5 separate regions of the Homo sapiens genome follow, and regions 1, 2, 3 and 5 are each linked to region 4. Evidence: fine-mapped QTL for protein levels in blood plasma. Region 4 holds a variant in brackets. A gene starts in each other region. All regions are shown on their reverse strands.

The links. PIP is the posterior inclusion probability: the model's chance that the variant is causal. The UK Biobank Pharma Proteomics Project read protein levels with antibody pairs (Olink). The fine-mapping took linkage between variants from a reference panel, not from the people measured, so its PIPs are less certain.
Region 1: CXCL13 starts here. The variant in region 4 is fine-mapped to the plasma level of the CXCL13 protein (UK Biobank, PIP above 0.99).
Region 2: CD5L starts here. The variant in region 4 is fine-mapped to the plasma level of the CD5L protein (UK Biobank, PIP 0.99).
Region 3: it holds the start of FCRL5, and the variant in region 4 is fine-mapped to the plasma level of the FCRL5 protein (UK Biobank, PIP above 0.99).
Region 5: QPCT starts here. The variant in region 4 is fine-mapped to the plasma level of the QPCT protein (UK Biobank, PIP above 0.99).

Annotation. Positions count from the first base shown.
Region 1 is chr4:77,603,558-77,607,970 of GRCh38, reverse strand. It overlaps CXCL13 (C-X-C motif chemokine ligand 13), which reads right to left and starts at 2,151. Exons shown (of 4, transcript NM_001371558.1): 1 at 2,042-2,151; 2 at 136-268. The coding sequence starts at 2,105.
Region 2 is chr1:157,839,443-157,843,931 of GRCh38, reverse strand. It overlaps CD5L (CD5 molecule like), which reads left to right and starts at 2,124. Exons shown (of 6, transcript NM_005894.3): 1 at 2,124-2,258. The coding sequence starts at 2,231.
Region 3 is chr1:157,550,603-157,555,091 of GRCh38, reverse strand. FCRL5 (Fc receptor like 5) reads left to right here and starts at 2,577. Exons shown (of 17, transcript NM_031281.3): 1 at 2,577-2,760. The coding sequence starts at 2,730.
Region 4 is chr17:16,946,904-16,951,392 of GRCh38, reverse strand. It overlaps TNFRSF13B (TNF receptor superfamily member 13B), which reads left to right. Exons shown (of 5, transcript NM_012452.3): 3 at 2,410-2,655. Among named protein-coding and RNA genes, the nearest start is that of TNFRSF13B, 23 kb to the left of the region's middle. The variant T/C (reference allele first, on the strand shown) is at 2,520.
Region 5 is chr2:37,341,286-37,345,751 of GRCh38, reverse strand. QPCT (glutaminyl-peptide cyclotransferase) reads right to left here and starts at 1,122. Exons shown (of 7, transcript NM_012413.4): 1 at 901-1,122. The coding sequence starts at 1,020. It overlaps LOC124907754 (a long non-coding RNA gene), which reads left to right and starts at 697. Exons shown (of 2, transcript XR_007086284.1): 1 at 697-2,025. RefSeq lists a silencer at 692-751.

The sequences.
Region 1 (4,413 bases), not on the chromosome of region 4:
ATTATTAGTTTGAGAATTTTTAGCAACACTCAAGTAAATCTCTTCGACATTCTTGAGTAAGACTACTGTATGGTAACATTTGATCTGATTTCATTGGGAGAAGGAAATCTTATTTATTTTTCTCTTGAAACTTACATGATTTCTTTTCTTGGACAACCATTCCCACGGGGCAAGATTTGAATTCGATCAATGAAGCGTCTAGGGATAAAGACTGAGCTCTCTTGGACACATCTACACCTCAAGCTTGTGTAATAGACCTCCAGAACACCTGTAAGTAAACACAGAATCAGTTATTTTAATCCATTGGCATGTAATTCATAACTAGAATTTAATTACTAATCTTTCATAACGTGCATTTGAAGACTTAAAAGTTTCAAGTCAGTGCTTCCACCCATATGTCTTTAGTTTGTATATTTCTGCTTGTCTTGGCTTGAGTATTTTCAAATGTTTTCTACCAAAACTTTAAAAATAAAGTTAGCTTTTAGGCCAGGCACAGTGGCTTACACCTGTAATCCCAGCACTTTGGAAGGCCAAGGTGGGAGGATTGGTTGAACCCAGGAGTTTGAGACCAGCCTGGGCAACAAACGGAGACCCCATCTCAGAAAGCAAACAAACAAAGCAAAAAGAAAACAAAACAAAAATTAGCTTTCAAAAAAACACAGCAATTTTGAAATTTGTGATAGTGTTATATTTGTACTCAGGTGATAGTCCACATAATAAAATTTGAGAACAGCCTCTGTAGGGACTTACAACTCAGTTATAATTAATGCAATATAAAACCAGTGGATTATCTTCACTCCCAACACATAAAAACCGAGGACATGACCTGGCTCAAGAGTCCTGGGAGCAATAACATGCTGGAACAGAGTTTTCTCTATCAGACTCTCTGCCATCCTCCCCTTTCCTCTCAGAAAATGTCACAGACGTTTTTGTTTGATATGTTGGTCCTCTGTCTGGGTTGCAAATCATTACAGAACAAAAGGCAATCATAAAAATTCAAAAGTCTTTTTATTTAACAAAAGCAATTAATACTGGATGGGTACCATTAGTATCCATCTCATGAATTTTAATGGGATCTAATGAAATCTAAGCCAAAGACATTTATCAGATCTTTTCTATCCAGCCTACTACTGTGCTTGACATACATTTATAAATAAAAAGGCTCACCTCTCAAGGTGTGTACAAGTTAGTAGGGGAAACAAGCAAACAAAAACTAAAATACCACAGAAGGTTGTATTACGCTCAAAATCTAACATGCATGCTGAGAACAGAAGATGTACTAAGAGCTACCTCTGCCGGGAGCCATGGGAAAGCCCCGTGGAGAATGCAAGAAATTAGGGTTTTGAAGAGTGAAAATAACATGTGAAGCAAAATTAAAACTGGGGGACAAAGCTCCTCTGTGTTTTAAGAACAAAAATTTGGCCTTCTAAATCTGAGCAGAAGGCTTCTTTCTGCACATATCCATTTCTTCGGCCACATAAAAACTTACTACTTCAACTGGATATTTATCTATTGACACAAAGATAGCTGCCCCACTTAGACATGGAAGTCTGCTTCTTTGCAGAATGTGTGTAAATACCCCTGGTGTACTGACAGTGGTGTACTTGATGTCAGATCTAACCATTTGGAGTTACATGAAGCATGTTCACTGCAAGAGACCAGTAGAGTTCAATAATCTTTAAACCCTGTATAGGGTTTGGTCAGAGTGGGTAACATTGAGAGGCAGAACAAAGAAGAGCTACATGTAAAGAATTATATATAGCAGGAGCTGAATCAGAAAAAGGCTGGGAATATATAATTCACATGAATATTGGACTTGTGGTATCTCTTTTTGCTATAAATAAAAATCTTAACAATATAAATACTTCCAGTTTTGAAGAGTTAAATTCCTAAACACCTTACTTTGAGAAATCTAGAAGGAACAGAGCAGTTTTTTCCCCCTTTAGTCAGACTTCCCTGCGGTTTTTAATCGAAAGAAAATTGAAGTGGTTAAAGACTATTTCTGTTCAACAAACAGTGAAATGTAAATGAAATTTCTCACCTTGGACTGGAGAGAGGCTGCTGACCAGCAGCATGAGAAGCAGAGATGTCGAGATGAACTTCATTCTGTCTGGAGGTAGAGTTCAGACTTGAGCTCTGAGTCCAGGCTGTGGGTTTGCAGTACCAGAGACTCCTATTTATTTATACCAGTAAGGGCCCTCCCACTGCCTTTGTCTCCAGTAGGTCAGCTGCATCATCAGCTTTAAAAGCCCCCAAATATTGCTGAGCTTGCTTTTTTAAAACTTCTCTTGCAAACTTTATAAATTTGTTTCAGAGCACTATAATAAAATATTTCTTGCAAACATGGACTATAAGTGCCAGAGACACTGGAGAAATCTGAGGGTGGGGAGAAAGGATAATCTATCAGCTTGGAAGCTCCAAAGCACTGTCTTTAGTAGCGCTATTGGTGATGGTGGTTTTGAGTGCTTCTCTCAGTGCAGGGTGAGCCAGGTTTCTCAGTGGCATTAGATATATACTCCATGACATTGGGGACTCCGTCGAGCGCATCACGTCCCTAGCATGTGGAAGGGATTCCGGCCTTTGGTAGGTGCTCAGTAAATATTTGCACAGCAAATGAATGTCTCTTTATATACAGATCCTAACGCTGATTATGCTATTGATTTTCCTACCAGTCTTTTCCATCTCTTATTTTGCTATCTGAAATATATGATTACTTATATAATCTGACCATCATGGAATTCTTAGAAGGGGGCAGTAGGAGTCCCCTGCTTTGTGTGCCTGTGTCTGCATGAAGGGAGGGAGACAACAGCCTTGAGGAAGAGAATCTCTCTGGCTGTCGTGTGCAAGTCCATGAGCTTGAGAACCATGTGGCAGGGGAGGGAGTCATTAGAACTGCATTAGAGGGTGAACCCCATATTACAGTCTGACATAAACATATGTGAAGTTAGGTTTTGATCCCACCAACTAGTCCATGGGGACAATCAGCCCACAGCTTATCCCATTTTCTAGAAGCTCTTTGATTAAAAAAAAAGTATGTAGACTGGCTAGTCTGGCCTAGAGTACCACTAAACTGCCCTGGAAGTGGACAAGGATGATGTATCAAACCAGACCCACTGATCTGCTAAGAAATCAGAGGTTTGGGCTTCCTGGCGCGATTTCCTAAACAATTTGGTTTTTGCTAATCAATTAGCATTGTGGATGTTTAGCATCCCAGGTGCCTCAGTATTCATGGGGGTAGAAGTGGAGGAGTGGTAATGCCACACAACCTTCACACAAAAGCAGTTCTCCAGTCAGCCTGAACGCAGTGACAGGGCACTCATTGATCTTGAGGCAGGTTATTCTATTGTTTGGCACTTCTAGTTGTTACGATGTTCTTCCTTATGTATATGTGAAAGCTGCTTCCCTAGCAGTTTGTTTATGCTTGTGTTGTGATAAGGGGTTGAATTTTGTCCTAATTCAACCCCTTATCACAACACAAAACAATTCTAAACAGTCTTCTATATGATGGCAATCCAAATATATGAAGGCAGGGTGTGCCAGTTGTGTCCTCTGCAAAGCAGATGCTGAGATGGACATTGGAGTAAAAGAAGGTTATTCAGAACAACTCCTGCGATAGACAGAAGGAGGAAGGAGGCTGAATTGGGCAGGGGGAGCCTCAGATTGCAATGCTGATCTGGTGAAGTCTACAACAGCTCAGTGGGGAGCTCCAGAGGAAAGACTGTTTATTAGAGGGGCCCATGGTGGGCAGAAATGTTCAGACTCTTCTACCCCAACCGTGCTCGGTCCTTAGCTGGGCCTCCTCAGAAACAACATGGTCTCTGGTTGAAAGCTGAAGCAGAGCCCGAGGAGGTTATCAGTAGAGGCTGTCAGCTAACTGCACTCCTTGCCGCTGGCCAGCAAGTTATTTCTTTAAGAGAGAGTTGAGTAGGCCACCTTTGAGTGTCACTCAGGGTTATAAACTAGAGGTTAACAGCACAAAGTCTGAGCTCAGCCTGGCAATGACTTTGGACAGGTCACTTAATTTCTCTATGCCTCATATTTACCACTTTCCACATGAGGATAATAGGAATTCCAAAGGGTTGTTTGGAGAAGAAAGCACCTGGTATATGTAGAGGGTTCGGCCAAATACTGGCATGTAGAATGTATTCAATAAATAGCCTGCCTGTCTGTCTGACTATCTAATCTGTTTGGGAAAAAACTGCTCCATTGCTTCTACATTTCTCAAAGTGAGGTGTTTAGGGATTTAACTCTTCAATCCATCCACCACCCCCATCCATCCATCTGTCCATCCATCCATAAAAGATCTTACTAACTTCCACTCCAAAACCCACTTCAAAAGTAAATACTCCTATTTCTTTGAATTGATAACAGTTTGAAACTCTCTCACCATCTTGGTTTACCTTTTTGAAACCT
Region 2 (4,489 bases), not on the chromosome of region 4:
CTCTCTCTGGTGCAGTGGTCTCTTAATGGGTCTTAATGACCCATTACTGGTCTTCATCCCAATTCCTGCTCAGTGCTGCAGCCAAAATACACACCTTAAATGTGTAACACCCTTCGGTGGCTTCTTGTGTCCTGTGGGATAGTGTCCTTCCTGGCTAAAAAGCTTCCTTTTCCTTTCTTCATGTTCTCACGCCTGTTCATAAAATACTATATTGGGAGGAAAAGTTTTCTTTTTCTTTTCTCTTCTTCTTTCACTCAATTTTCCACATGGAATGGGGAAAATATATTTCTGAATCATGAAGCCTGTGTTTGCTAATGGGTTTGTCTGCCCTCAAGCCACACAAAGTCTTTTCTTTTCCAAGGGTAAACTCTGTTGTGCACATCTAGCTCCTGAAGAATGGAGGTAAATGCATAAAGCCTTAGATCCCAGTGGCAGTCTAATGTAGTTCATCAACAGTAAAGATGATATTTTGAACCTTTTCTGAATTCTGTACCTATTACTGTGTCACTTCAGAATCTAGAGAGGGAAGGATGTGAATAGTTAGCATTTACAAACTCATTCATGATATACCCTCCATTATCTGGCTCTTGTTGCTACTTGCATATCATCTAGTGTCTTTACCTTTCAACATCAAGAAGCCCTGGCCCCTGATCACTAAGCAGGCTGTAATCCAGTCATTCCAAACTACCTGTGGTTCCTTGAATAAGTAATGCTGTTTCACTTGTCTGCATATGCATAGCAAAATCTTTTCCTATTCTGATTCTCCACTTAACTCATCCTAAACCCCTGCTCAAGTATCATCATTGCTGTGAAGTCTTCTCTGATTAGCTCCAAACATAGTAACCATTTCCTCCAAGGTTTCATTTCTTTTTCTTATTTTAGAGATGTGATCTCACTCTGTCACTCAGGCTGAGGTTCAGTGGCCTGATCATAGTTCACTGCAGCCTCAAACTCCTGGGCTCAAGCTATCCTCCCAGTTCGGCCTCCCAAAGTGCTGGGATTACAGATATGAGCCACCTCGCCTGGCCTCCAAAGTTTGTTATACTTTTCTCTCTTAACAGTGGTTTCCACATGTTATTGCAATTACTAGACCATATATTTTTACAGTGCAAAACTATCCCTTGTTCCTTCATGTACTGCCTCCACCCATCACATTGCCTGGCATTCATGAGTGCTAAAAACTTTTCATTGAATACAATACTAAGTAAATGAAGAAATGTGGGATTAAAAATGAATGCCTACAATGAACCAAGCTTTCTGCTGAGTTACCTGAATATTACAAAGAAGCAAAAATTATTACTGTAGAGGAACAATTACCCTGCTTGGAATGCAGAGATTATGTCAGCATACAAAATTGATTGCTTGATCAATCTGGAGTAGAATAGCTCATGAAGCATAGCTATACTTAATAATATAGCAAAGCAGAGGGGCCTGAGAGGGTCTTACTGCTTAATCTCTGTCCATCATGTCTTAGACCTACAGACAACTTGAGTTCAATGATTATGATGCCCCTCACCTCAGGGATCTGTTTCCATCCAGCTTCCAAAGATGGGCATACACCAGCACAAGCATAGAAAAATAACAAATCTGTATATTGGACCCTCTGCTTAGCAGTGAGAAAGCAGGTTTGAAGACAATAAAGCCAGGCCTGTATGTGGAGATTGGCACCATGACCCTGGATTATGTTTTATGGGATATGCCTCCAAGGGCAACTCTGCATTTATCCCATGGCCTCTGGCTTCCAAATTTTCTAGGCACTTCCCTCTGGGGTAAAGGAATCAAAATTGGCTTATTTCCCTTGCAAACCATCCTTGGCGACTAAGTACTGCCTTGTCTTCTACTGAGAGATGGCCATATTTTTGGCACCTGCCTTTCCTTGTGGGAGGTGTTTCCTCTGTTTACATAGCAAAGGGGCTGTAGGAGAGACAGACGGAGCTGGACTTACAGCAGAACCAAGTCATGATAGCCTGTTTCTATTTTGTTTTCAGCATTTTTCCGCCAGTTCTGGCCACCTCCTTTCCTCTGGAACATGCTGATTTCAGCAAGTCCAGCTCTGTCAGCTCTGCCCCCCGAGTCTATTGGTTTCTGATCATCTGATAATGCTTTGCCTGCACTCAGGACCTGTCTTTGTCCCTCCTCTTAACATACTTGCAGCTAAAACTAAATATTGCTGCTTGGGGACCTCCTTCTAGCCTTAAATTTCAGCTCATCACCTTCACCTGCCTTGGTCATGGCTCTGCTATTCTCCTTGATCCTTGGTGAGTATCTCTGCACCTGTTGGTTTAGGCTTCAGAGTTTTCTGGCACTTTGATTAGGAGAACTTTCTCCCCGCCAACCTGGAACAGATTTAGATGTTTTTCAAGGATGAGCTTCTTCCTCCTTTTTACATTTGGTAACTATTCTAATCCTTAAAAAGCCGCTTAATCCATACACATTTGTAATTCACTTTAACAGATTTTTTTCTATTTTCTTATATTTGTAATGACAGAGTCATGATAGTTTATCCCATTTCTCTTTTTACATAAGTGTTCCTAAATGTACTATTAGTAAGAAGACAAATGAATGGGCACCGGGCAGCAGCAAGTAGAGCCAGGAAAGGAAGTAGAACTGCAAGACAATCACCTTTCATTGATCATATTGTCTGGTTTCCTCTGAAAAGTGTTTCATATAATGTTTTTCTAGTTTTCTTCAGTTTCTCATTGCTTAGAGTAATCTAGAGATTAACCTAGTTAATCTGGTGATTGTGGAGCCAAGGAGACCTGGATTTCAATCCTGCCGTTTTGATTTCTTAGCGGTGTGAATTCGTAGGTTACCATACCTCTCTGAAATTTTGCTCTCTCATCTATGAAGTGAGGATAATATTATGTTCCTCAGAGGTTTTTAGGAGTATTTTTTTTTATAAGATAACTAATATAAAGCATCTAACAATGCCTGGTAAATCCCTATGCTAATCAATCACATCCACTTTTATGTCTTGATGATCTAGTACATCACCAAAGCCCACACAATCCTCTCAACTGGACACTTTTGTGTTCAATGTAAGGTACTGACCACATCTTAAACATCCATGCATCCCCCACATCACTCAACGGCTAGTCCTGCCCCTCATGGATATACTACTGGGTCTTCCAGGCTCATGTGCACTTCCACCTGCTTCATGAAGCCTTTCTGGCCTGTGCCTTCTGCAGTTACCCACCCTACTGCAGAGCTTCCAAGTCACTTACTGGCTATATCACGTTTGCACCTGCATATCAGGCTTGCCATGCTCACTTTCCTTCACATGTACACATGTTGGGTTGGGGTTATGCAATGATTCCCATATGTATAATATAACCTTGAGTTTTGGATAGTTGCAGAAAAGGCCTCATTGAGCCTGAGAGTGGCCACATTCTGAAGATTAAGGGAATGAGGGTAATGAGAGGTTATTTGGAAACCAAGAAAAGAAAATATTCCAGGATAAACCACTGAACTACTTGAATCTGCCTGAAAAACTGTAGGCTGGAGGTCCAAAGATATTTGCACCTTCTGAAAAATCCTATAAGATGGGGGTGGTGGGTGTTTTGCAGTTGAAAATGCATAGGCCTCAGGGACTCCTGGAGGTTACAGGGCCCAGGACTCTCTACAGCATTAGGAGGGACCTTATGGAGAAAGGAGTCCAAATATACAGAGATCCTGCAGGAAGAAACCCCCATGTTTTAAAGACAGGCTGGTGCTGGAATCTGGAGGTTTGGAACTACATATAGAGCTACTTCCTGAGCTATTCATCTAAATCAGCTAAAACAGCCTGCAAGCTGATAATGAGGTTTGTATTTTTAAATGGTAGGAAAAAAGCAAAAGAGAAATACTATTTTATGACACATGAAAATGACAAAAAATTTAAATTTCAGTGTCTAATAAAGGTTTAATGGAACATAGCCGTCCTCACTTGCATACATATATGTGGCTGTTCTCAGGCTACAATGGCAGAGCTGAGTGGTTGCAACAGACACTGTATGGCCCACAAAACTGAAAATATTACTGTCTGGCCTCTTACAGTAAGAGTTTGCTTACCTGGTCTAAATGCTGTGCCGATGAACACAGGCATATCCTGCCCCTTTGCCCTAATTTCTGCTCTGCCCACCATGGCATCTTTACCTCCACCGGCCAGTGCATCTTCCCAGTGGCCTCCAGCACTCTTTCCTGTTGAGCCAAGAGGCTGTATCACCACACTTTTCTTCAGGCAGTAACAACCAATCAATCTAATTGACTAGAATAGAAAACCAATCTATCCACCATCACGTGTGAAGAAAGCAGGCTGAACCAGTTAGCTGTGGTGGAATTGGTCTCTGTGATTCCTAGCCAGTGTCCCTGTGTCCTTGGAGGATGGTCATCCCAGAAGAAGAAGGTCCCAACAGGACTGACATTGGAGGCTCTGCATCTACCACTCTTGTCTCACACAGTTCTGTGAAGGCCTTCTAGAGTTGTGTTCTTTGAATAAAGCCTTGGAAAT
Region 3 (4,489 bases), not on the chromosome of region 4:
TAAGGCCGGGCATGGTGGCTCACGCTTGTAATCCTAGCACTTTTGGAGGCCAAGGCGGGCAGATAACTTGAGGTCAGGAGTTTGAGACCAGCCTGGCCAACATGGTGAAACCTCATCTCTACTAAAAATACAAAAATTAGCTGGGCATGGTGGCAGACACCTATAATCCCAGCTACTTGGGACGCTAAGGCAGGAGAATCGCTTGAACCTGGGAGGTGGAGGTTGCAATGAGCCAAGATCGCACCAGTGCACTCCAGCCTGGGGGACAAGAGCAAAACTCTGTCTCAAAAAAATAAAAATAATGGTCAGTAAAACAAAAAAGTATTATATTTCTATATACCAATATACATTTAGAAAAAAATCTAATGATGTCACTTACAATATCATAAAAAACATATCAATAACCTAAGGATAAACCTACCAAAAGATATACTTTCCAGAGGCAAAGCTATAGAAAATTACTGAAAGAATGTCAAGTTAACCTAAATAAATGAGGGGATATTGTATGTTTATGGATTGGGAGACTAAATCTTTTCTAATTTATACAAATTAACTTATAAATCCAATGCAATCCCAGTTATTAAAAATCTACTAGGCTTTTGGGGAGAGAGGGGACAGGAATTGACAAGGTGATTTTTAAATGTATAGAAAAATTCAAAAAGCCAAAAATAGCCATAACAATTTTGAAGAAGAACAGCATTTTATGACTTAAACTATCAGTTAATAAGAGTTATTATAAAGCCACAATAATTAGAAGAGTGTGGTATTGGCATGAGGATAGACAAAATAGACTAATGGACAAGAAAGGAGTTTCCAAAAATAGACCTACATGGCTTTTTGTTTTATAACAAAGGTGAAATTGCACTGTACTGTGGAAAAAATCAACTTTCAATAAATAGGGCAGGATAAATTATCTGTATTTAAGTTAAAAGTGAATATAAACACTCAAACTGTACACAAAAATCAATTGCAATGCTCTTATAAATATAAAATAAATGGTAAAAAATAAAGTTTCTAGAAGATAACCTGGGAGAGTATCTTTATGATCTTGGAGTAGACTAACTTTCTTAGAAGGGATGCAAAAATCTCTAACCACAAAGGAGAAGACTGATAAACTGGACTATGTCAAAGTTAGAATGGTTGTTCATCAAAAGGCACTATCAATGAGCAAAGAAGCAAGCCACAGATTGAAGGAAGACATTTGCAATACATATATCCAACAAAAGGTTTATATTCAGGGTTTAAAATAACTACAAAACAGGAAAAGAAAGACTGAAAGTTAAGAGAAAAATGAGGAAATATTTGAACAGAGATTGCACATAAAAAGGATATCTACATCACCAATTAGACTATGAAAAAATGCTCATTCTCAAATTCACCAGAGACATACAAATTAAAACCACATTGAGATAATTCTAGCAGAACGGCCAGATTTTACTAGATGACAATACCAATATCAGCAAGAATTTTAGAACAATGATAACTCTCATACATTGGTTGGTGGGTGTGGTGGGAATTGGCACAACCACTTTGGAAAATAATTTGGTAATACTTCCTAAACTGAATATATGCATACCTTATGAGCCAGGACTTCCACTCCCAGATATATACCCAACAGAATTATGTGCGCATATGCCCCAATAAATGTATACAAGAATGTTCATAGCAGCACTATTTGTTTTAGCACCAAAAGTAGGTAAAGATTCTGTGTTCCCTTTGAAGTTCTCCTCTTAATCTCTATTCACCCCTGTAACCCCTGTATGGTTTTCTTGCCTCAGGGTGCAGTGGGTCAGATGTGACATAATATACCTAAGGTGATGTGCATTTGTAGATATAAAATTAAATGCCCCCTTAGGAAGACCAAGGTATGGGCCCAGAGAGAAAGGGTGAGAAAATATTTGAAAGAAAGAAACTGGCACTCCTCGTGGCAGCTAATGTCTTAGGAACCTCTGTTGACCAGTATACCAGGATGGAAACTTGACTTTTAGAAAATCATAAGAGCTATACATTCACCTGGTAATTTTTTAAAAAATCAAACGGTACAGAAATACATAAAATAAATTGTGTTCTTCCCACCTATTGCTCCTCAAACATAATCAATATTTTTGTGTGTACTTTCCAGGAAAAGAAGAAAGTATACTTAAAAGAGTTGATGTACACATATATCCTATTTTTTATATTTACCCAATGGGATAATACTACAAAACCAATCTATATCTCACTTTTATTCTCTTCACATCAAACAAGGTGGTCTTCCCTTCTTGGCATGTTCAGATTTACCTTATTCTTTAATGATTGCTTGTCACCATACGGATGAATCAGAATATTCTTAAACAGTCCCCATATCATGGTTTTTTGTTTTGTTTCCAGTGTTTAGGCAATAATGAATGCTACAATAAACGTTCTTATAGTACTCTCTTCAGATACTTCCTTCAGGGTAATTTCCCAATAGCAAAAATGTAGGGTCAAGGGTATTTGATTTTTTAAAACCTTAACTTTTTTTTTTCTTTGATCATCGGGTAGGAAACTGTGATTAGCAGCTGAAGACGGGTACTCCCACTTCCTTTTTTCAATTCACTAATGCATTCTGCTCTTTTTGAGAGCACAGCTTCTCAGATGTGCTCCTTGGAGCTGGTGTGCAGTGTCCTGACTGTAAGATCAAGTCCAAACCTGTTTTGGAATTGAGGAAACTTCTCTTTTGATCTCAGCCCTTGGTGGTCCAGGTCTTCATGCTGCTGTGGGTGATATTACTGGTCCTGGGTGAGTAAAAGGGCTCACCATGGGCCCTGGGTGGGATCGGGACAGCTTCTCTCTCCACCGCAGGCCTGGTCCTTTCTTGGGGCTCAGCCCCTGCTGAGAGACTCTCTCCTACATTAGGAGACTGTATTTTTGAACTTTACTCTGTAGCTCAGGGCTTTCTCTTGAGGCTGAAGAAAATGGCCACAGCTGGAAGGAATTTTCAATCTTACAGAGTAGGAAACCACAATAACCACAACAATTAAAATTTCATTTATTTTTTTCTTTAAAAAGTACTTCTTAAAGTCCAGAGAATGTTTCATGTTTGTTTGTTCATATTGTCTTACTCATAGAAGAGCCCACTCTCCTCTCTGCAGAGGAGATGTATTTATTCCTTGTATGACAAGGCCAGATCCTGGTCCCCAGCATAAGAGGCAAGGTTTCTAACGGGAAAGACAGGTCTTTCTCTTGTACATAATTGCAAACCACTGCAGCAATTGGCTGATTAAGAACATGGGGTGGAGGAGGTCGCAGAGGCGTAGGTGGACAAAGCAAGGATAAATCTAAAGCATATGACTTTCTCTTTGTCCCTGTGGGTGTACGTAAGTCTCTATCAACTCATATGTGCGAACTGGTTGATTTTTACTAAAGGTTAAATATTATAATTAAATATGTTTATTTATTTGTTCAGCAAATGTGTTTAGTAATATCTATGCACAGGTGCTGAGCAATTAGAGTCCATAGGAGACACTACGTCTATGTTCTGGAAAGTCATGACATAGAAGGGCTCCCAGCAAGGCCAATGTACTTTCAAGCAGCTATGCAACAAGCTCCCAGTTAAATAATTGTCCAGGCAAAGTTACCAATGAATGCTGTAGGCAGATAATAAACTGTATTCAAAATAGCTAGTAAAGACTTCATGAAACTTAGAGGTGAGTAGGAGCTAGAGGAGCAGAAATGGAGCAGGCGTGATATAAGAAAAGAGGACCTCACAGTTGGAAGGTGCATGGACTATAATTCCTGAAGTAGGAATACATCTCAGTGTGGCCCCACACAATGTGGGTAATGGCCAGGTCCTGAGCATGAGAGGGCAAAGTTTATAACATGGGCTCTGGGGTCAAACAGGATCTAGGTTCAAACTTCATCTTGCCACCTACTGGCTACCAGATTCCTGGTCTACAAAATGCAGTTAATCCTAGTGCTTACCTCACAGGATTATTGACATGGTTATATGAAATAACCTACGTAAATGCAGACCATATAGAAACCACTCACAAAAATATTAGCTTCATTTAAAACAATGCAAAGATGAAGGAAGCCAAAATATTCAGGTGAATGGTGAATAATTTGTTGTTCTCAGTAAAACACTTAAGTTTGGATAAGTCTCCAATAGCCTCATGTGGACAGGGATGATTTGTCTCTCACACACTCCTGGATTTCTATTGCCTTGCTCTGGAGTATGATTGGCATTCCAAAAATCTGTTGAATAAATAAATCAACCCATATGCAGAATACCTACTCAATTGATAAACCTGCCAGTTTTGTGTCCTCTCTCTCTTCATTACCCATTTCTCAAATCTCTATCCTTCTATTCCTATATTATTAACCTAGTTCTTTAATTAATTCATTATACAACACAAATATATTTAGTGAACATTAAAGGAATATCTTTTATATGCCATTCACCGTTATAGGTCCTGGAGGATATATGGTGAACATAAGGAAAGTCCTAGGTCTCATAGAGCTTGCATTA
Region 4 (4,489 bases):
TGATAGAACTTACCACAATTTGCTGTTTTGTTCTTTCATGTGTATGTGTTTTATGTCTGACTCAACCACTAGACTGGGAGCTCCCTGGCAGGGGAACCATGTCTGACTTGAGCCTAGCACAGTGCCTGACACATAGTAAGTCCTTCATGAATACTTATTGCGGGGAACTCAGAGAGGCTGAGTGACTCACCCAAGATCACCCAGTTTAAAAGTGGAGATGTCACAGCGACATCCTGGTTTGAACCCAGGACTCCGACTCCTAAATCATGACCTGAACCACTACCCATTAATGAATTAGAACATTCATTGGTTCATCCCACAAACATAGATGGAGTGCTCCAGCCCCATGGAAATAGGAATCTGCCGTGGCCCTTCAAAGACAGTGTCATCTAATGGGAGAAATGACTATGTGTCAAGGTAGAAAGCCACAGTTGGGAGAGACCCCCTTCAGCTAAAGGGCTGGGGAGCAGGGAGGTGTCCCTAGAGGAAGCACCATCAGAGGCAGATTGTTAAGAGGTCACAGAATGCGGAAATCAGATGGGCACCTGGAAGAAAGGGCACTATGAGCAGAGGCTCAGAGGAGGGAAACACAGTGGGGAGGACTGAGTCCCAGGCGGGGGAGGGGAGGGGTGTGAGGTCAGGCAGGGAGGGGTGTGAGGTCAGGCAGGGAGGGTCAGTGGGCTGGGGCACTCAGGCACCACCTGCAACAGCACCACCTGCAACAGGGGAGGAGGTCACAGAAAGCCCCAAGGACACCAATGCTGGGCTAACCCTGTGTGATGCAGAGTGGAGGTGTCAGTTTCTGTGCGGTTCAGGGGCGCCCTGGGGATAGGGCAGGGCCAGAGCAGGGGAGGTCACTGGCCCTATGTGGGCCATCTGAGTTTTCCCTAAGGTCCCAATTCCGTGATCTTTTAGTTCCTTCCTTTACTCTGTCAAAGACACAAGAACGGATCTGTTTGCTTTGTGAAGAGGCTCAAATGAATATTCTACTTAAGCTTTCCATTACGTGAGCATTTAGTATGTGCCAGGCACTGTGCTGGGCCCTACAACTCTGCCAACAACCCTACGAAGAAGTCAGTACTGTTATTTTCCCTATGTTGGAAATGAGGAAACTGAGGCACGGAGAGGCTAAGACCACACTGCCTGCAAGTGGTACAGCCAGGGATGGCCCCAACTGAAATTTGGTTCTGAAATTTGGGTTCTTATCCACTATCCTGCACTGTCTCCAAAATGTGTCCTTAAAATATATGTGTGAGCCACATATATTTTATTTATACATATTTATTTATTTATTTATTCATATTTACGAAGTCAGGACATCTCAAAAGCCATACCTTACTCTAAATACAAAGGAAACTTGCCTTTTTCACGTAAAAACTTCCATGTAGAAATATTCGGAGGCTAGACCAGATGCGGTGGTTCATGCCACCTGTAATCCCAGCACTTTGGGAGGCCGAGGCAGGCAGATCACCTGAGGTCAGGAGTTCACGACCAGCCTGGCCAACACGGCGAAAGTCCATCTCTACTAAAAATACAAAAATTAGCCGGGTGTTGTGGTGGTCGCCTGTAATCCCAGCTACTCGGGAGGCTGAGGCAGGAGAATTGCTTGAACCTGGGAGGCAGAGGTTGCAGTGAGCCGAGATCGTGCCATTGCACTCCAGCCTGGGTGACAGGAGCGAAACTCCTTCTCAAAAAAAAAAAAAAAATTAGAAATATTCTGAGACTTTAGATAAGATAATTGATTGTTCCAAATAGGTTTCTTTATGCATTCAAAGTTGGGTCCACTGTGCTCTCTTAAGGCAAGTGTGATTTGGCTTTAGTTTCCTTGGCTTCTGTGCCTTGGCACTGATACTTGTGTAAGCTGCTGTAATTCTCATCTAGTATTAAGACAGAAGAAACACTATTCATGTGAACTTTTCCACCTTCCTTCCAGCCCCCTCCCCCAGCTTGTCAAAGAGGATTCTGGCTTTTCCCCTTCTTTCCTTATGCTGATTTGAAATATATTTCTCCTTGATGAGGCTTGAAAAATGCAAGTAAAAGTCTTATGTAACAATGTAATCCAGATCTAAATTTTAAATGATAACTGAAAATCTTCATACGTTTGGAAACTAAGAAATGCACTTGTAAATAACCCATAGGTCAAAGAAAAGATAATAATGAAAAATAAGTGCATTTTGATCTAGGTAGAGGAAAAATACTACACATCAAAATGCAATGCAGCTAAAATAGTACTTAGAGGACAATGCATAGTCTTCAATGTGTATATTGTAAAAGTACTTGGCTTACTCTGGAATTGCCTTCTGGAATTTTACTGTATTTTTTTTTTTAACTTTGATGTCCTTTGTGGTCAAACCCAGAGTTCCTGCTAGTCTGTGTCACCCAGCAGTATCATGAATTTCTCTCTCCCAGGGTCACTCAGCTGCCGCAAGGAGCAAGGCAAGTTCTATGACCATCTCCTGAGGGACTGCATCAGCTGTGCCTCCATCTGTGGACAGCACCCTAAGCAATGTGCATACTTC[T/C]GTGAGAACAAGCTCAGGAGCCCAGTGAACCTTCCACCAGAGCTCAGGAGACAGCGGAGTGGAGAAGTTGAAAACAATTCAGACAACTCGGGAAGGTACCAAGGATTGGAGCACAGAGGCTCAGAAGCAAGTCCAGGTAAGCCACCCAAGGCAAACCTGCATGGTGTCACGCAGGGTGAGAAAGCGTGGGAGGCCTGATGCCAGGCCTAGAACAGGAGAGTCCACAATGCATGAAGCCCAGAGTCCAAGCAAATGGCCAGAAGCCAGGGAGATCATCCCAGGATAAAAAAAACAATGTAGGCAACATTTCCAGAAGTCTGTGGACAAGAAGAAAGCAGGAGAAAGGACCTGCCGTGTGAGGAAGAGCCTTGCACTAGAGGCTGCCGAGGCTGTGCCAGTCATTGAAGCACAGGCACAAGTAAGCAGCAGACCCACCTGTGTGAGCACCTGAGCAGCAGCCACCACCTGCCCTCCACCAGTGCTGCAGACTCCATTTATTTCTATTATTATTTTATTTATAATTTCAACTTTTTTTTTTAGATCCGGGGGTACATGTGTAGGGTTTGTTACATGGGTATGTTGCTTGATGCTAAGGTTTGAGGTACAAATGGTCTTGTCACCCAGGTGGTGAGCATAGCACCCAATAGGTAGTTTTTCAGCCCTTGCCCTCTCTCTCTGCCTCCCCCTTCTAGTAGGCCCCAGTGTCTGTTGTTCCTGTCTTTATGTCCATCTGTATTCGACACTTAGCATTTCACTTATAAGTGAGAACATGTGGTATTTTCTGTTTCTGCATTAATTCACTTAGGATAATGGCCTCCAGTTGCATCCATGTTGCTGCAAAAAACGTATTTTTCTTTTTATGGCTGTGTAGTATTTCATTGTGTATATTTACCACATTTTCTTTATCCAACCATCGATGGGCACCCAGATTGATTCCATGTCTTTGCTATTGTGAATTGTGCTGTGATGAACATACGTGTGTATGTATCTTTTTGGTAGAACGGTTTATTTTCCTTTGGATATATACCCAGTAATGGGATTGCTGTGCTGAACGGTAACTCTGTTTTAAGTCCTCTGAGGAATCTCCAAACTGCTTTCTACAGTGGCTGAACTAATTTACATTCCACCAACAGCGTATAAGCGTTCCCTTTTCTCTGTAGCCTCACCAGCATCTGTTGTTTTTTTACTTTCTAACAATAGCCATTCTTACTGGTGTGAAATGGTCCCTCATTGTGGTTTTGATTTGCATTTCTCTGATGATCAGTGATGTTGAGCATTTTGTCATGTTTGTTGGCTGCTTGCATGTCTTCTTTTGAAAAGTGTCTGTTCATGTCTTTTGCCTACTTTTTAGTGGGGTTATTTGTTGTTTGCTTTTTGAATTGTTTAACTTCCTCATAGATTATGGATATTAGACCTTTGTTGGGTGCATAGTTTGCAAACATTTTCTCCCATTCTGTAGGTTGCCTGTTTACACTGATAGTTTATTTTGCAGTGCAGAAGCTCTTTCATTTAATTAGATCCCACTTGTCAATTTTTGTTTTTGTTGCAATTGCTTTTGAGGACTTAGTCATAAATTCTTTCCCAGGGCCAATGTCCAGGATGGTATTTTCCAGGATTTCTCTAGGATTCTTATAGTTTAGGGTCTTACATTTAAATCTGTAATCCATCTTGCATCTATGTTCCTCAGGGATATCGGCCTGTGGTTTTCTTTTTTTTGTTGTTGTGTCTTTGCCAGGTTTTGGTACCAGAGTGAAGCTGGCTTTCCAGAATGAGTTAAAGGAGACCCTCCTTGATTTTTTGGAATAGTTGCAGTAGAATTGGTACCAGCTCTTCTTTGTGCATCTGCTAGAATCTGGCTGTGAATTCATCAGATTCCATTTAGAGGCAAAAGAGGCTTCCTAAGAAAGAGAAGGGAAAGGTATCACTTAAAATGTTTAAGTAGTTCATTAACAACTGCCAGAGGGAAAAAA
Region 5 (4,466 bases), not on the chromosome of region 4:
CCATTCTCCTGCCTCAGCCTCCCGAGTAGCTGGGATTACAGGTGCGTGCCACCACGCCCGGCTGATTTTTTGTATTTTTTAGTAGAGACAGGGTTTCACCATGTTAGCCCTGATGGTCTCGATCTCCTGACCTCGTGATCCACCCGCCTCGGCCTCCCAAAGTGCTGGGATTACAGGCGTGAGCCACCCCGCCCGGCCGAACCCATACACTTCTTACAGAGGGAACTTGCAAATCACTTTTATCCTAAGTTCCTTATATGCGATTTCTACCTACAACTAGATCCATTTTCTCTGAAAATAGCAGGTACCCTCTTTTAAGTGGAGGAAAAAGGCTTTTGAAGTAAGCAGGTCTCCAGTAAAGGTCCTTCCTGCCGAGTTGCTCCTTTTAAAAATCTAAAACAAACAACACACATCCGTCCTGAGACTGTAGGGACACTTCAGCGCCCCAGCAGCATCCTTGGATGAAGCAGCGGGGGGGCTGTGGGCACACCCCCAGGCGCACCCCGCACCCTAGCGGCCCCGGAGCGCCGGCCCCGTTGCCCTCCAGGGTCCCGAGTGGGGGGTGGCGCCGCGATGCGCCCTCGCCTCCCGGCTCAGCAGCCGCCGGCGAGACACATTTCCTGTGCCTATCAGCACCCCCATCAGACCGCAGCCCAGGAGAGGCCAGTGACATCACCCAGCCCCCCTGGCGTCTCCAGAACAGCCCCGGACTGGCCGAGGCACCCCGGCGAGTATGCAGAGCCCCGACTCCTCCGGGCGCCGGGTGGGGCGCCGGTGCCTGGGCTGGGGACCGTGGCCCTGCCCCGCCTCCCGCTCTGCCTAGGTAGGGCTGACCCGGCCAGGGGTCCTCGCATCGGACCAGAGCCGCTCAAGTACAACTACGCAGAAACAGCCCCTCACCTTCTCCTCTGGCCAGGCTGAGGCACTCGGACTGACCCCCCTGGATGCCCAGGGCAGGGCGGCCACCAGCAGCAGCAGGTGGAGGGTGCCCACGACGCGCCGGTGTCTTCCGCCTGCCATCTCTCCGAGTCTGTCTGGGAGCGGGTTCCCCGGGCCGCTGGCGGTCACGAGCCCGGGAACGCGCGTCCTTCGCCTTCCCTCTTCTCCACCCTTGGGTCGACTGCGCCCGCCTTCCCATCGCCCCCGGGTAGCCTCCCGCCGCGTCGCGCAGGCTGCAGCCCTCCTACCCCGGACCTTCGCAAACCCCGGGGCTGGGCGGCCCTGGGTGACAGACACAAGCTTCTGAACCCAAGCTAACAAAGGCGGCCACTTCCTTCTCTTGGAGAAGATGAAAGGAAGGAAGCAAGAGACATGGAAGAGCCTTTTTATGATCTCCAATGCCAAAACAGGGAACAGAAAAGGGAGGAAGGGTTCACCAGACCCTGGGGAGTTATGAAGTGTTTCCCACAGCTCCTAAAGAAGGGGTGGACAGGGAATCGACGTCTGCTGAACACGGCACCAGGCACCGTCCTAGGTGCTTGTCCAACCTTCCCGGATTTAATCCACTAATCCCATTTTACAGACGGGGAGACTGAGACACCCCCCCACCCCCCATAGAAAGCCTGGACTGGAACCCACAAGCAAAAGTATGACAGTGGATCTTTGCCTTTTCTCTTTTTTCTCACAAATAGTTGCCTTGCCTCACATCATACTCTCAAATTGAAAAGGATGGTCAAAGTAATTATCTGAAATAATGAGATCTACAATATTCACAGCGGCTCTGAAGGAGTCATCTTCTCCAAGGCATGGCCCCAAAAGGAAAAGCCAAACACAATTCTATTTACTTTGTAACATCAAAGGTCATTGTTATCCAGATAATCCTAGGGCAGGAAAACATTTCAGTTTTGTCTGTAGGTTTCTGGTCCAAGTTGTCAGGACAGTGACTTTCACCAGCCTCTTTTGCTTCCACAGTGAGGATCAGGGCTTGGCCTGCTCTGAGTCATCTCCCAGTAACATCTAGTTCCCAGAAAAATCAGAACAAGGATACTGAAGCAGAACCATTTCACAGAGAGCAAAGATTTGAAGGTAAGGAAGCTGCCAGAAGGCCCACCCACTCACTCTGTCTTCCCAGCCTTGGCTATGAGTTTTTAAAGAGAGGGCTTGCCTGGAAATACACTGTTCTGCCCTCCTCTGGAGCTGTAGGAGAAGACAGGATGTAAATAACTCCTTTCCTGGTGTACAGATTTGCTAACCCTATTCATGTCTGAGAGTTTTGAGTGACAATTTAAATCTCCAGGCTTAAATAAAATTAAATACACCTTTATTAAACCCACAGACAGTTCTGATCATCGGACCCCCTTCAGAACTTTCTACTGGCTCCAGTTTCAGAACTAAACCACTGTCACATTCCCCAATACAGCTCCTCTCTTGCTGCCTGGGTCAACCTTGAAATAGTGCATTTCCTGAGTGGCTGGGTAATAAAGAGCCTATTTGCTTTTTTTTACCCTATTACCTTTATGTCTTTTCACAATATGGTTCCTATAAGAAAGAGAACGTGGAAATAGCAAACCTAAATGAAACAAAATGTGAGAGGTACTATCATGCTAAGTATGAGCAATTCAAAACAAGAAATATAGAAATAAGCTAAAATGTCAGCACATAACGTAATGATGATTTTGTTTCCTAAGTTTCTCCAATTTTGGTTATATTTAAGTCAATAAGATGTTCTTACAGTTTGGTATCTACAGGAAGCAGACTCTGAGACAAGAGTTTAACATGCAGGATGTGTATTAGGGAGTGCCCTTGGGACAAACCCCTGTGGGAGGAAGAAGGGGAACAGGAGAGAACAGAGGGAGAAGTTAGCAGCAAAGCGGGCCCAACAACCTCACCCAACTCCATGGGAGTCCTGAAGCTGAAAAAGACGGTCAAAGTTGTCCCATACTGGGCCAAAATGTCTGGGGCCTTATCTCTGCACCTCCATGGAGTGATTTCCTGCAAGCGGCTTTCCAGCCAAAAGAGCTTGACTGCTAGAGGCTGTGGGCCAGCCGGCCTCCAACAGCTGGAGCAGGGTCCTTCCCTGGGGGCAGATCTGGGCAGCGCATCTCCTGTATCCACCACAAACGTATTGTATCTGGTACAAATCTAAAACATTCCACATAGCTAGTGAGACTGATTTCAATACATTGGTTTTTTTTTTACATGTAAGCTTTTCTGCCAACTTTCCAAGAATCTACAAATCCAACACCACTATGTATGTATCACTTCATTCCTTATGCATATCTTTTCTAGTGTCTTACACACTAAATACCCTTTTCCTTTCCTTCGCTCATTCTTTTCTCTCTTCCTTCATTTGGGAAACGTTTAGAAATACCTTATATCTGCTATTTTTGCCCTACTTCAACTTTTCCTTTCTTCAAACTCTTCCCATGGAAGATAACTAATGACTTTTCCATTTTAATTAAAGTTTCAGACCCTGTTTTTCATCATGGAAAAAATGTGTTGTATATACAGTGATAACACTGTTCTCAAGTGGAGAAATTTTTACCTCCATTATAGTATAGATTCCATACTGTGATGTGAAGGAAATGAAGGACCCAATTGCCAAAACAGATCTTCTCCATGAAGCTGCCATGGCAGGATGTTCCTACACCCAGTCCCACCTTTAAAGTGGCGCCATTAGATCAAAGTAGTAATGACCAGAAGGTTCTATTAAAACAATAGTTTTCAAAAGTGTGGTCCATGGATACTGGGGATTCCCCAAGACCCTCTTGGCTGTCTCCAAAGTCAAATCAACTTTTATAATAATACCAAAACAAGATTCATTTTTTCTACTGTATAGACTTTGCACTGATGTTGCAAAAGCAATGATGGGTAAAAATGCTGGCACCTTAGCAACTGTCAATACAGGACACAAAACTGTACTATTGAGGAGGAAAATCTATACTTGTAGTCATTGTGTTTTTCTTTCTTTCTTTCTTTTTGGAAGGAGTTTCACTCTTATTTCCCAGGCTAGAGTGCCATGGTGCCATCTCGGCTCACTACAACCTCTGCCTCCCAGGTTCAAGCGATTCTCCTATCTCAGCCTCCTGAGGAGATGGGATTACAGGCATGCACCACCATACCCTGCTAATTTTTGTATTTTTAGTAGAGACAGGGTTTCACCATGTTGGTCAGACTGGTCTCGAACTCCTGACCTCAGGTGATCTACCTGCCTCGGCCTCCCAAAGTGCTGGGATTGCAGACGTAAGCCACCATACCCAGCCATCTTAGTATTTTTCACTGCCACGCATAAAGAAAAAAAAAAAGAAGAGGACGATAAAAGAAAAGAAAAAGAGCCAGTTTCACTTAAGAATGTCATTGATGAAGTAATAAAATTGTTGTTTTACTGCCTTCTGAAGCTGTCTCTCCATGAAGCTAGATTTTAAATCTAGCAGGACAGAGTACAGGAGGAGAGAGAGCTCCTCACGTCTGCGTTTTCATCTCATGGAGACCACCAGCTCTGTGTGGACTCCTCCTACCTGCACTGC